Linked DNA regions of Homo sapiens. The protein of the gene in region 1 interacts with the protein of each later gene in a pairwise test. Each region holds a gene or a part of one and is shown on either strand. Other genes may lie near its edges.

Region 1 (3,752 bases):
TAAACTGTTCAATAGGCAAAAAGATGTTTCAAAATGTGTTAATTCTAATACTGGGAAGGTTATATAAAATCGGGTACTCAGGGTACTGGCGTATCCTTCAGAAAGAGTATACTCAACAAAATACAAAAAAAAATTTATCTGACCCAATACTTCAACTACTCGAAGTTTATTCTAGCAAGACAAGCATAATTGGGGAAGTACACAAAAATGTATGTACAAGGATGTTCATCATAGTGTTTATATTAAGAAAACAGGAAGCCAAAATGCCCTTTAGAGGACTGGTTAGGTAAATGATGCTATGTATTACAGCAGCAAAAACAGAAGACAAAAAAATTTTTTGTTAATTAAATACAAAAATCATTATGCATATAGCTTAGATCTCCTTGATAATACATAATGTATAGTTACAGAAAAACAGATACCAAAGTCCTACTTACATAAAACTGCATGAGTGTATGTATAAACATGTACTGATTGTTTTCACTACAGAAAAACTAAAGCCACTTTTAATTTGGGAGAAAAATTTTTAAAAGGCATGAGAGCAGCTAAGAGATTAAAGACAGAGAGGTTAGTGCAGACAGCGGTTGACACCAAGGGAAAGAGCTGTGGACCTTGCTGTCCTGAAGGTTTCAATATGGAGCACTGCTCTCCAGGTCCCTGCATCCACCAACACAGAAGACAGTAAAGGAAGTCTCCTGAGACATTAGCAGAGGCTCTGGACTTAGGGGACCAGGCTCTAGAGTGGCAAAGGGTAGGAGCAAAACACATGAAATGGAAAGTTGATGTAAACAAAACACAGACCTTCAGCCCCCTTCCTCCTCTGAGGCCTAAAAAGCTGCCAACCGGGCTTCTCTTCCTGTAGTCCCACCTCACCTCAGGAAAAAAGATTAAAGAAATTCTTCATCTGAAGAAAATGCTGCTTACTTAAGCACCCAGTTAACGGCTGTCAGTTGACAAGCCATGTCAACAAGGACTTTCATAATCAAATTTTGGTACAAGACTCTTCAATGTGAATGGACAGCAAAAAAAAAAAAAAAAAAAAAAAAATCAGAGATTTGAAGGAAGCCTCTAACATAGAAGACAGAGGCCAAAAATGAACACATAACATGAAAAAAAAAACATTCTGATGAAATACAGAAAACTGCAAAGAAAGTAAACAGGATTTTTTTTAAAAAGACAAAAAATAAGTACAAGCTCTTGGAAATTAATGACACCAGAAATAAAAGCAATCAGTAAAGGATGAAAAGCTAAAATTAAGGAAATCTTCATAAAGTAGAACAAAAAAGACAGACATGGATAACATGGGGAGTCAAAAATAAAGTACCGGGTCATAATCCAGGTGGTTGTGGAGAAGGTGCAGAGGGGTAGGGGAGGAGGAGAGGAAAGAAGGTGGAGAAAGAGGATAAAACAAATAAGAAACTCTAGGCAAGGAACATCACTATACAATTTCAGAACACCAGGGTAAAGAAAAGATCCTAAAAGCAAAGTCTCAAAAAGGTCCCGTTTTGTTTTTTTCAGAAATCTTTTAGGAGGTAAGCCTCTAAAATAAGGAAATAAATCAAGAAAGAGGAGAACACAGGATGTGGGGGAATCTCAGGATGGCAGTGGTCCATCCTGGAGCAAGGGGAAAAGGGATCCACCTAGTATGTGAGGTCTGACAACCAGATGAATTGTACTCAGAGAATGTACAAGGAACTGACAAAAAGTTTAAAGAAATCTGAGCCAATTAGAGATAGTTAACTTAAGAAAAAAATAAAAACGAGTTACACAAGAAAGAAAATATTAATGCATGCTACTTGGCGCAACAAAGATCAATATCTATCTGGTCATAATAAAAACATTAAAGGTCTATGTTACCAAAAGTGTAATGTGTTAAAGGAGGATGCTAATGAGGAAGAGGACACAAAAGAGCTAAGAACCATCATCTACCAGAACAAAACACCAAAAGATATCTCAAAAGAGTGCAGTACAAATACAGAGTTTTGGAAAATGGAGGTAAGTACCAGGAAATACAGGTAAAAGAGCTGAAAACTGTCTTAGGGCAATGGAAAAAAAAGATAGAGGACTGCTTTATTATTCACACAAATTCCTCTATAAAATAAAAATTAGTTTAAAGAACACTTAAAAGCCAACCAGACAGACAAGCTTAGAAAGACAGTTCTAGAGACACCTGAGGTTGTCACCAAAACTAGCAACACTGTTACATGGAAATCAAAGAACAGGGCTCTGAAGTGAAACAAAAGCCAAACCTGAATCTTAGGTCTGCTGCTTAGTAGGTATCAGCTTTCCCAGATTAGACTCTCTAACTCTCGGAAAAACTCAAAGGATGCTGTCTGGCCTGCTGAAATTCAATGGCAGCTCAGCTATTTTTAATGTTGCTAAAATCTGAATCTATTAATCTGACATTAAAGCCAGGCATAATGTAAGTCAAAAAAGACACCAGAAGCATCCAGCTTGCTAAGTTAGGCAAATTAATTTGTAGCTAGACTCTAATTACCCATGTTAAAGGTAATTCATTTCTATTTTTACTATTTCTACACTTTACTTTTTCTCTTGGTTTTCAAGTAAGGTTGAAAGCCTTAAAAAGAAATTGTGTCAACCTAATTTGTCTACGCCTAAACCATGGCAGGTAAAATGATCAGAATGTTCCCCAAGGCTGTGTATGGGGGCGGATGTTAAGAGTCAGAGATAGCGCACGCAAAGAAAACGCTCATGGAACAGAAAGCGATAGGAGTCAACAACCGAGAGGCAGGGCGCTGAAATGAAGCTTGACCCTTTCCTCTTAGAATTTTCCCTCACAGGATTTAGGGTCCCCAGTCCCCTTGCTTTCTTTCTGTGTCCAACTGAGATGTTCTGTGATGTGGCCAGCCGCATGTATTCCCCTGGAGGCTCTGACCCAAGCCAAGGCCTGCCTTGAACATTCCCAGGCGCTGACAATGTTGTTTAGGCTATTGCTTGAAACACTGAGAAATTACCCCTGTTGCTAAACACACAGAAACTATCCCTGGCCCTGAACCAAATTCCTTCAACACTCAAATCAACTCCCTCACCTTGGACACATCTTTTCCTGCTGTCTGCTGAGAGGACTGCTGCAGCACTAAATGCTTTTGACTGATTACCCTGAGATTTAGTGTTCTGGAACCCCAACTAGGTTCGGGGCAGTCCCTTACAGGAATTCCTCTGCCCCTACTTTTAGGGCAACTTCAGCCACAGGTTCAGCCAGAAGGAACACAGAAGATGGGCTTACTCCAATGATATCCTCATCTAGACACTTCTGTAACTTCTTATCTCAATGGACTACTCTAAATGACACAGATGGACTACTTATCCATCTGTGTCAATGGACTACTCTAAGTGACAAAGATCTGTCCTGGGACACTGTACTTGTATTTGATTTTTAGATGCAACCAAAAGCCAATCCAAATGAGAACATTTGGATTGCAAATGAGAACAAATGGATTGGAACATTTGGATGGAAAACATTGGTGCCCATGTGGCGTAATGCAGCTCTGGAACAAAAATGGGATGGAATATTAAGTAACAAGACTTAATATTCTCAGGGAATCCTGGTCTGACTCTGACAAAATCAGAGAGGTGTTTCAAAAAGTTCTGAAAACACTGGAGTAGATGCTTATTATTAATTACCCCAAATGACTTCTAGAACCGTTAAAGAACTTTTTTGAAGTGTATTTGTTAATAAAAAAATTTTCAATACTCAGAATCACATTTAGGTCAAGCTTTCTAGGTCCGAT
Region 2 (3,752 bases), on another chromosome or scaffold:
ATGCCAATTCAACTGAGATGGGAACTCTATTCACACCCGACCATGACAACGCTTTCATAAACTCAAGGAGAACTTAGGTTTCAGCCTAGCCCAGTCAGAATGTCTCACTTATGAATTATTAGTGGTAAATTTCACTGACTAAAGGACTCAATCAGAGTACATAAAAATTAATTCTTTTTTTGTTAAACTTTTTAAAGTCAGAAGTGAGGGTTCGGGAAAAAAAAGGAAAAACATTTCTACTGCTAATTTTATAAAGCTTAAAAATATGACCCAATTACTTGGTATTTGTGATAAAACACTTTTACTCCACCTTCAAAATATATCCGGAAATGAGTTATTTCTCATCTTTTCCTCTGCTATCAATCTGGCCCAAGGCACTATCATCTCTCGCCTGCATTACTACAGTAGCCTCATTACTGGTCTCCTCGCTTCCACCCTTGTCCTCCTACAACCTGTTCTCGAGTTTTCAAAATACAATTTTAGCTGCTGTACTAAGGCAGACCACGTCACTCCTTTGTTCAAAATTGCCAACATTTCTTCCCAGTATCCCTCAGAATAAAAGTCCTTATAAAGACTCCAAGGCCTTTCCCAACCCAGCTGTTATTTCCCTGGCCTCATCTCCTACCCACTCTTCCCCACCCCCGTCCTCCAACCTCCTGCCTCAACAACAGCTACCCTAGCACTGCCTCAGAGCCTTAGCACTTCAAAAGTTTGCTTTGCCTGGAACCACATTCCCCATGTGGCCACACAGCTCAATTCCTCTCCTCCTTCAGGGGTATGTTTAGTTACACCACCTTCAGTGTGTCATTCCCTAATCTCCACGTTGAAAATAACACTCCCTGCCCCTACTCAATTTTTCTCCATACAACTTTTCTGGTATGCTGTATATTCAATAGTTTACTTTTTGTTTACACGCTTTCCATTTGAATGTAATTTCCACAGGGGTGCAGATTTGTCATTTTCTCCCATTGCTATATGCCCTTGAACAAGCACAATGAATATCTGTCAAATTGTAATCTTTTCCAGAAAAATGTATATGGGTTTCGGTAAGTAATACAGTTACTTAACTTTCAACAATCATCTTACTGTATCAAGGTCATGGCAGAAATCAACTAAGCACTCCTCAGCTCGACCAATGAAGGTTTACAAAGAATAAGAAGGCCTGGGTCCTGACCTCTAGGGCTCGACTCAGCAATCCCTCAGACCTGTTTTTAGTCTCCTTTCCCTACCCTACCTGGAACTTTGCATTCCAGCAACACCCACCCGTATGTATTTGCTACTCAGAATTTGTTCTCTCATGTGCATGTGCCTTTGTTCATGCTATCTCTTCTCCTTCAAATGGAATAGCCAAAATTGAACAAGGCAAAGGGAAAGGAGTAATTCAAGTAGCTGAAGTATATGGGGGAATGTGCGGAAACTGCAGAAGAATCTGGAAGGAGGGTGGAATTCAATTACAGCGAGCCCTGAATGCCATATTAAAGCACGTGGCCTGCAGGCAATGGGAGGTCCCTAATGTGAGCAAATGTATAGCTTAGAAAAATAAAGTCATTATAATTAGTAAAACCAAATTGCAACTAATCAGAACTTAGTTAATGAACTAGCTGGTACTTTTAGCATAAAATCTGTTTGCTGCAGATTCTCTGTTCGCTTAAAAGAAAGAGAAACCAGTCTCGAGAATAAATTCTTATCAAGGACTTAGTTTAAAAGTAGGTGGGTATCACAACACACACCCACCACCCACCATTCCTGGAGATACTTGGGACTCCATTCAGGCTAAGACTGGTTTTGTGTACAGTTTCAGGCACAGTGGAAAATGATGCTCAAACCTGTTATAACCACAAAACATTTTCAAAAGGCTTTTACTACTAAAGGCCAAAAGGGGGGTTCTAGTTTAATTAGTGAATATAACTAACCAGGACAGATATTTCCTTGAACATTGTGGTAAATCAAAGTTTTGCTAGATAAGTTTCAAAGTTATACATAAAATATTCAAGAAATCTTTCTACTGATTAGGTTTTGAAGGAAGTAGCTCCAGCGAAATGGAAGTCACTTTGGCATCTGGAATTAGATACAACCAAAGTAATAAAGCCGTTTTATAACAGAAAGAGAAATATTTTCAGGTTGTACTAACTCCAATCTAAACTGAGAAATCTTTAAGTGGAAAAAAAGACTGAACAATCTTTGCCAACAATCTATGAATAAAGTGGAAGATGGCAAATAATTACATACACAACTTAATATTACGTTGAACACTTCATATTTTAATTCTGATTAATAACAAATTCAATCACTTTATTTTTCAATACAGATAGCAAAACTGACCTTTAAGAGTGAAAAATGTATATGATACACACAAACAGAATTGGCTGCTTGACGTGTCAGCTGGACACCTGAGTCCCTGCAAAGCCAGCCTTGGGGGCCTTTTCTTCCTCTACAGTTCTATGGCACTTTTTCAGTACAACCACAGTAATTTGTACAACTCTGTCTTATCTCATGCACAGCAGGCCTATGGTAGGCCTACTAAGGGCAGGAATTCTAAGTATTCCCTACACTTCCAACAGTACCTCATGTAAAGCTGGTTCAGAAAGGAGTTAACACAGAAGGCCAGACTGCTACCCTTAGGGAAGTGGTCTGGGAACTTGGGATTTCCGAGTGTCCCTACCATTTCCTAACTGGTAAGGGTGGTTTACTGGGCCTAAATTGTTTGTGCAAGCAATACGGTTCTTAATGAACACCTGAGCCTGGCGCGGTGGCTGACGCCTGTAATCCCAGCACTTTGAGAGGCCAAGGCGGGCAGATCACAAGGTCAGGAGATCAAGACCATCCTGGCTAACATGGTGAAACTCCGTCTCTACTAAAAAATACAAAAAATTAGCCGGGCATCATGGCGGGCGCCTGTAGTCCCAGCTACTTGGGAGGCTGAGGCAGGAGAATGGCATGAACCCGAGAGGCGGAGCTTGCAGTGAGCCAAGACCAAGCCACTGCACTCCAGCCTGGGCGACAGAGTGAGACTCCGTCTCAAAAAAAAAAAAAAAAAAATGAACACCTGATTTATTTCTGGGAGCTTAGAATTTTGGCAGAGGGTGTCTACATGACCAATCCAATAAAAACTCTGGGCACAGAGTCTTTAATGAGCTTTCCTGGTAGGTTACACATCATACACATCACAACTCAGTGCTAGAGGAATTAAGCGTGTTTGTGGAATAACACTGAGAGAGGACTCGGAAGCTTATACCCAGAGCGCTCCAGTCTGCTGCGGGTACTGCATGCACATCACCCTCTGCTGCTGCTGCTGCTTTGGATCCTTTAGCTGTAATGAATCACTGCCATGACTATGACTACATGATGAGCCCTGTGAGTCATTCTAGGGAATCACCAAACCTGGGAGTGGTCTTGGGGCCCACAACAATAAGTAAATATCATGTGGGTAACTCTCAAATTTATGTCTCCAGAAATCAAGTCTCTACTGAGCTTCAGACTATTTTATCCACCTGCCTATTTGGCATCACTCCTTGGAATATTCACTAGCCACCTCACACTCGGCCTGGCCAAAACAAAACTCGTGATTTCCTCCACCAAATCTTTTCCCCAATCTTCACTTCAGTAAAGGGCACCATCAGTCATTCCTTACATCAAAAACCTAGAAATCGTCTTTGATTTCTCTTTTCACTTACTACCAGCTCCCACTCAACGCCTATAAATCCTATCAGTTTTACACTGGAGAGGTGGGGATCCTCCCACGAAGGAAGCAC
Region 3 (3,752 bases), on another chromosome or scaffold:
AGTTTTGGAATAAAACCCATATTTCTTTGCACATAAGATGTTTCACTTTTGTATTTCATCAGCCTTTACTTCTGCCTCACTGGAAACATATTTAGCCAGTTATCTCAAACTACCTGAAGCTTGTTCATTTATATTTTCTTGCCTTTATTCATGTTATTTTTTCCTGGAATGCCTTTCAAACTGACAGCATTCAGAGATCACCTCAGGAATCCTTCCCACATCTAAATTTGGTATTTTCATTGTACCATGTGTGTCTCTATCATATCATAATGTTTAAGGCTTGCTGTAATTGTCTAGTCTGGACTTTTTGAGGGCCTCTTATTTTTCTGTCTCCTACTTAAACAATATTTTTGACACAGCTGCCTGGGTGTGTGTTTAAATTTTTTTTCTATTTAATAATGTTTTTTATTTGTGTTGTAGAATGCCAGAGGACTTGGATCTGAGCTAAAGGACAGTATTCCAGTTACTGAACTTTCAGCAAGTGGACCTTTTGAAAGTCATGATCTTCTTCGGAAAGGGTATATGGGGGAGTTATGACTTTGATTTTGTTATGTTTCTGTGAATTTTCACAATATTCTTTAAGTATTTTGATAGGCTATACATGTGTATTTAGTTGGCAGATGGCAAGTAATATACCTTACATGGGGTGCAGAGGGGAAGAGGCTTAGATATTTTCTGTAGTGGAAGAGGTGTCTCATCAAAGTAGTAGGTTCCCAATTAGAGCATCCTCCTAGGCAGTGGTGCCCATTAGCATGATTTGGTAGGATTCTTTTTATTTATTTTTTTGCTACTGATAACTTAGCCATTTGCCTTCTTGTCTTAACTATTAGGGTAATTCACTTTTCTTTGGGAGGCACTAGAACATAGCAGTTGAGAGATTAAACTCTGGATTCAGTCGGCCTGGGTTTGGATCGTGGCTCTGCTCTTTACTAGATGTGTGCCTTTGGACAAATCACATAATTAATGTCTCAGTGTCCTTATGGATAGAATAGGCCTAATAATAGTCTGTATCTTCTTTTGAGGAATAAATGAGTTAATACCTGAAAAATATTTTAAATGGTACCTGACATTAGAAGCACTCAGTATGTATTGGCTACCATTTTTTTTCTTTTCTAGCTTTAGCATGCAGTTACGCCATGTTTTTGATTTCCTTTTTGTTTCTGTATGTTTAGGTCTCAGTTTCTGGTACTAGACCATACTCTTTGCAGGTCACTTTTCTGCTTAATAAAATAAGGATAACGACCTTTCCCCCATAAACATTTTGTGTTTTGAATTTTTGAATTTTACATCTAATTTTAAAGTATTTACTCTTATTTTTTGTTTATTTATTTATTTTTTGAGATGGCATTTTCCTCTTGTTGCCCAGGCTGGAGTGCAATGGCGCGATCTCCCCTCATCGCAGCCTCCGCCTCCCGGGTTCAAGTGATTCTCCTGCCTCAGCCTCTTGAGTAGCTGGGATTACAGGCATGTGCCACCATGCCCGGCTAATTTTGTATTTTTAGTAGAGACGGGGTTTCTCTGTGTTGGTCAGGCTGGCCTTGAACTCCTGACCTCCAGTGATCCGTACACCTTGGCCTCCCAGAGTGCTGGGATTACAGGTGTGAGCCACTGCGTCTGGCCGTAATTTACTCTTACTATAATAGAATGGCATTCTAATGCTGGTGTCTGAGTACAAATATAATCCCTCATTACAGACTTTCAGTTTTGTAGTAAAAAAATGCAGCATATAGCCTGTGAAATTGGAGATATAATTTGATATTTATAATCAAGTTGATTGGCTAGGCAGTAACTAAGGTCTGAAGATTTTTTTCCCCCCACATGAAATGTTCCTTCTTCTTCCTGATTGGACTGGGGCAGGACCATTTTCAAAACCCACTTCCTGGATAATGTTTTGTAAAAAGACAATATTCAATAAACAATTGTTGCAGGGTTTCTAAGGTTTTTATTAGCTTTAAAATCCTAGTTTGGATAATAAGGTAGTCATCTTTATATAGCTAGAGTGATAAAGACCAGTGGCCTGGTTCTAGTTGTGCCTTACCTAACATACTTTATACATAGTAGGTGTTCAGTAAATGTTAAACCTATTGTTCAACATGTTTATTAAAGATATATTAAATATTGAAAGTGTTAGACCTGAAGGGAATAGGCTTAGTTTATATAGTGCAAGAAGTACCTCATCAGAGTAATAGCAATAAACATACATTCATTAAATTTCTTCTAGATGTGGCACCAGATTTTGGCAAGTTTTCCCTAGTGATTGAAGTCTTGACCACCAATGTCTATAATGGATACATTCTTACATTATTATATATACCTTTTTTTTTCCTTTTGGTGTGTAGGTCTATGAATTTTTAGCACATGTATCAATTCCTATGACTGTCACCACAGTCAAGATACAGAACAGTTTTGTCACCCCAAAAAACTCTCTCATGCCATCCCTTTATAGATATGATTTTGAGCTCTGGGTATTGAGTGATATTTAATCTCCTCTAAATGTTTTTTTTTTAATGTCCTTTCAGTTTTTCTTGTGTGAAAAATGAACTTTTGCCTAGTCATCCCCTTGAATTATCAGAAAAAAATGTAAGTATATTATTATGTCCTTATTTTTATCTTCTAATAGATAAATACTTTTACTAATATTGGTTTCATTTTATTAAAACAATTTTGGTACTGAGGATTTGCCCATGAAGAATATGAGGCGTTATTTTCAAACCCCTTGTAGGATAGACTTAAAAATTACACTGCTCCTCTAAAGCTCCCTTTCTATGCGTTCTTACCTGCCTTTTTAATGTACGTCTCCAAAGGGTGATCCACTTCTCCATTCCTCTCACAGGAATTTTCTCTTTCAATAATGCTGTTTCTTTTATATTTTTCCTGCCATTTTTGCTGTTGACTTCCAAGTTCATATCTCTAGTTTTGACCTCTTTAAGTCCTGCATCTCCGAGTTACTGTAGGACACAGCCACTAGGCACAGTAGGTACTTCGATGAATATGACATCATCCCCATCCTTAAATAACTTAAAATTTAATGAGGAAGACAAGCAGTGGGTAGGAGAAGGCTTCGTAAAATGCTAGAGAAGACCAAGGATGTGACAGCCACCTGTGCTTAGGGCTTTTTTGGAAGGCTTTATAGAAGAGGAGGGACCTTTGAACAGTTTTAGACCAGAAAGTTTACTCCTAAAGAGAGGATAGCATGTATACATGTCCAAAACACAATTTAAAGGATTCTTAAATAAACATTTAGAGGAAGAAGAAAAAGGTTTCTGACTACTTGGGGAAGATGATGCAGTTGTTAGGTAACAGAAAACTGATCTGTATTTTGTTTTTGTTGTTTGTTTGTTTCGCTTTCTAATAAGAGGATAGGTCTGCCTATAAGAAAGAGTAGAACAAATAATGTAATTATGAAATTGAAGTTCAAATTAGATGAGAAAAATAAAAAAATTCCTCATCGATTTAAGTGAATTCAGGTTTCAGGTGCAGAAGTTGACAGCCCAGAGTACACTTATAAGTATGTGAGTATGATTATAAAAGCACAGTTGATCATCTTTGAGAACTAATGGGAGAAATGAAAATTGGTTATAGATGGATACATATTCCACTTTTGTATAAAGGATCTAACTAAAAAATAAGATTGTCTGTGGTAACATTGATCCCTGAAACTGTTTCTTAAGTGGACTATTGAGTGAGCTGTGAGCATTTAATAGGGTAAGCAGTGATCATCAGCATCTGAATGAACTCAGCAAATTAATTTT

Evidence for each region.
Region 2: the proteins of PSMB1 (region 1) and RPRD1B interact in binary tests that used the Homo sapiens proteins (3 or more experiments, as listed by UniProt).
Region 3: the proteins of PSMB1 (region 1) and POMP interact in binary tests that used the Homo sapiens proteins (3 or more experiments, as listed by UniProt).

What each region holds. Positions count from the first base shown.
Region 1 is NC_000006.12:170,539,567-170,543,318, forward strand, and holds part of PSMB1 (proteasome subunit beta type-1), read right to left. Parts: intron 1-3,752. UniProt on the Homo sapiens protein: Non-catalytic component of the 20S core proteasome complex involved in the proteolytic degradation of most intracellular proteins. This complex plays numerous essential roles within the cell by associating with different regulatory particles.
Region 2 is NC_000020.11:38,043,660-38,047,411, reverse strand, and holds part of RPRD1B (regulation of nuclear pre-mRNA domain-containing protein 1B), read right to left. Parts: intron 1-3,752. UniProt on the Homo sapiens protein: Interacts with phosphorylated C-terminal heptapeptide repeat domain (CTD) of the largest RNA polymerase II subunit POLR2A, and participates in dephosphorylation of the CTD by RPAP2. Transcriptional regulator which enhances expression of CCND1.
Region 3 is NC_000013.11:28,661,990-28,665,741, forward strand, and holds part of POMP (proteasome maturation protein), read left to right. Parts: intron 1-420; coding exon 421-518; intron 519-2,519; coding exon 2,520-2,580; intron 2,581-3,752. UniProt on the Homo sapiens protein: Molecular chaperone essential for the assembly of standard proteasomes and immunoproteasomes. Degraded after completion of proteasome maturation. Mediates the association of 20S preproteasome with the endoplasmic reticulum.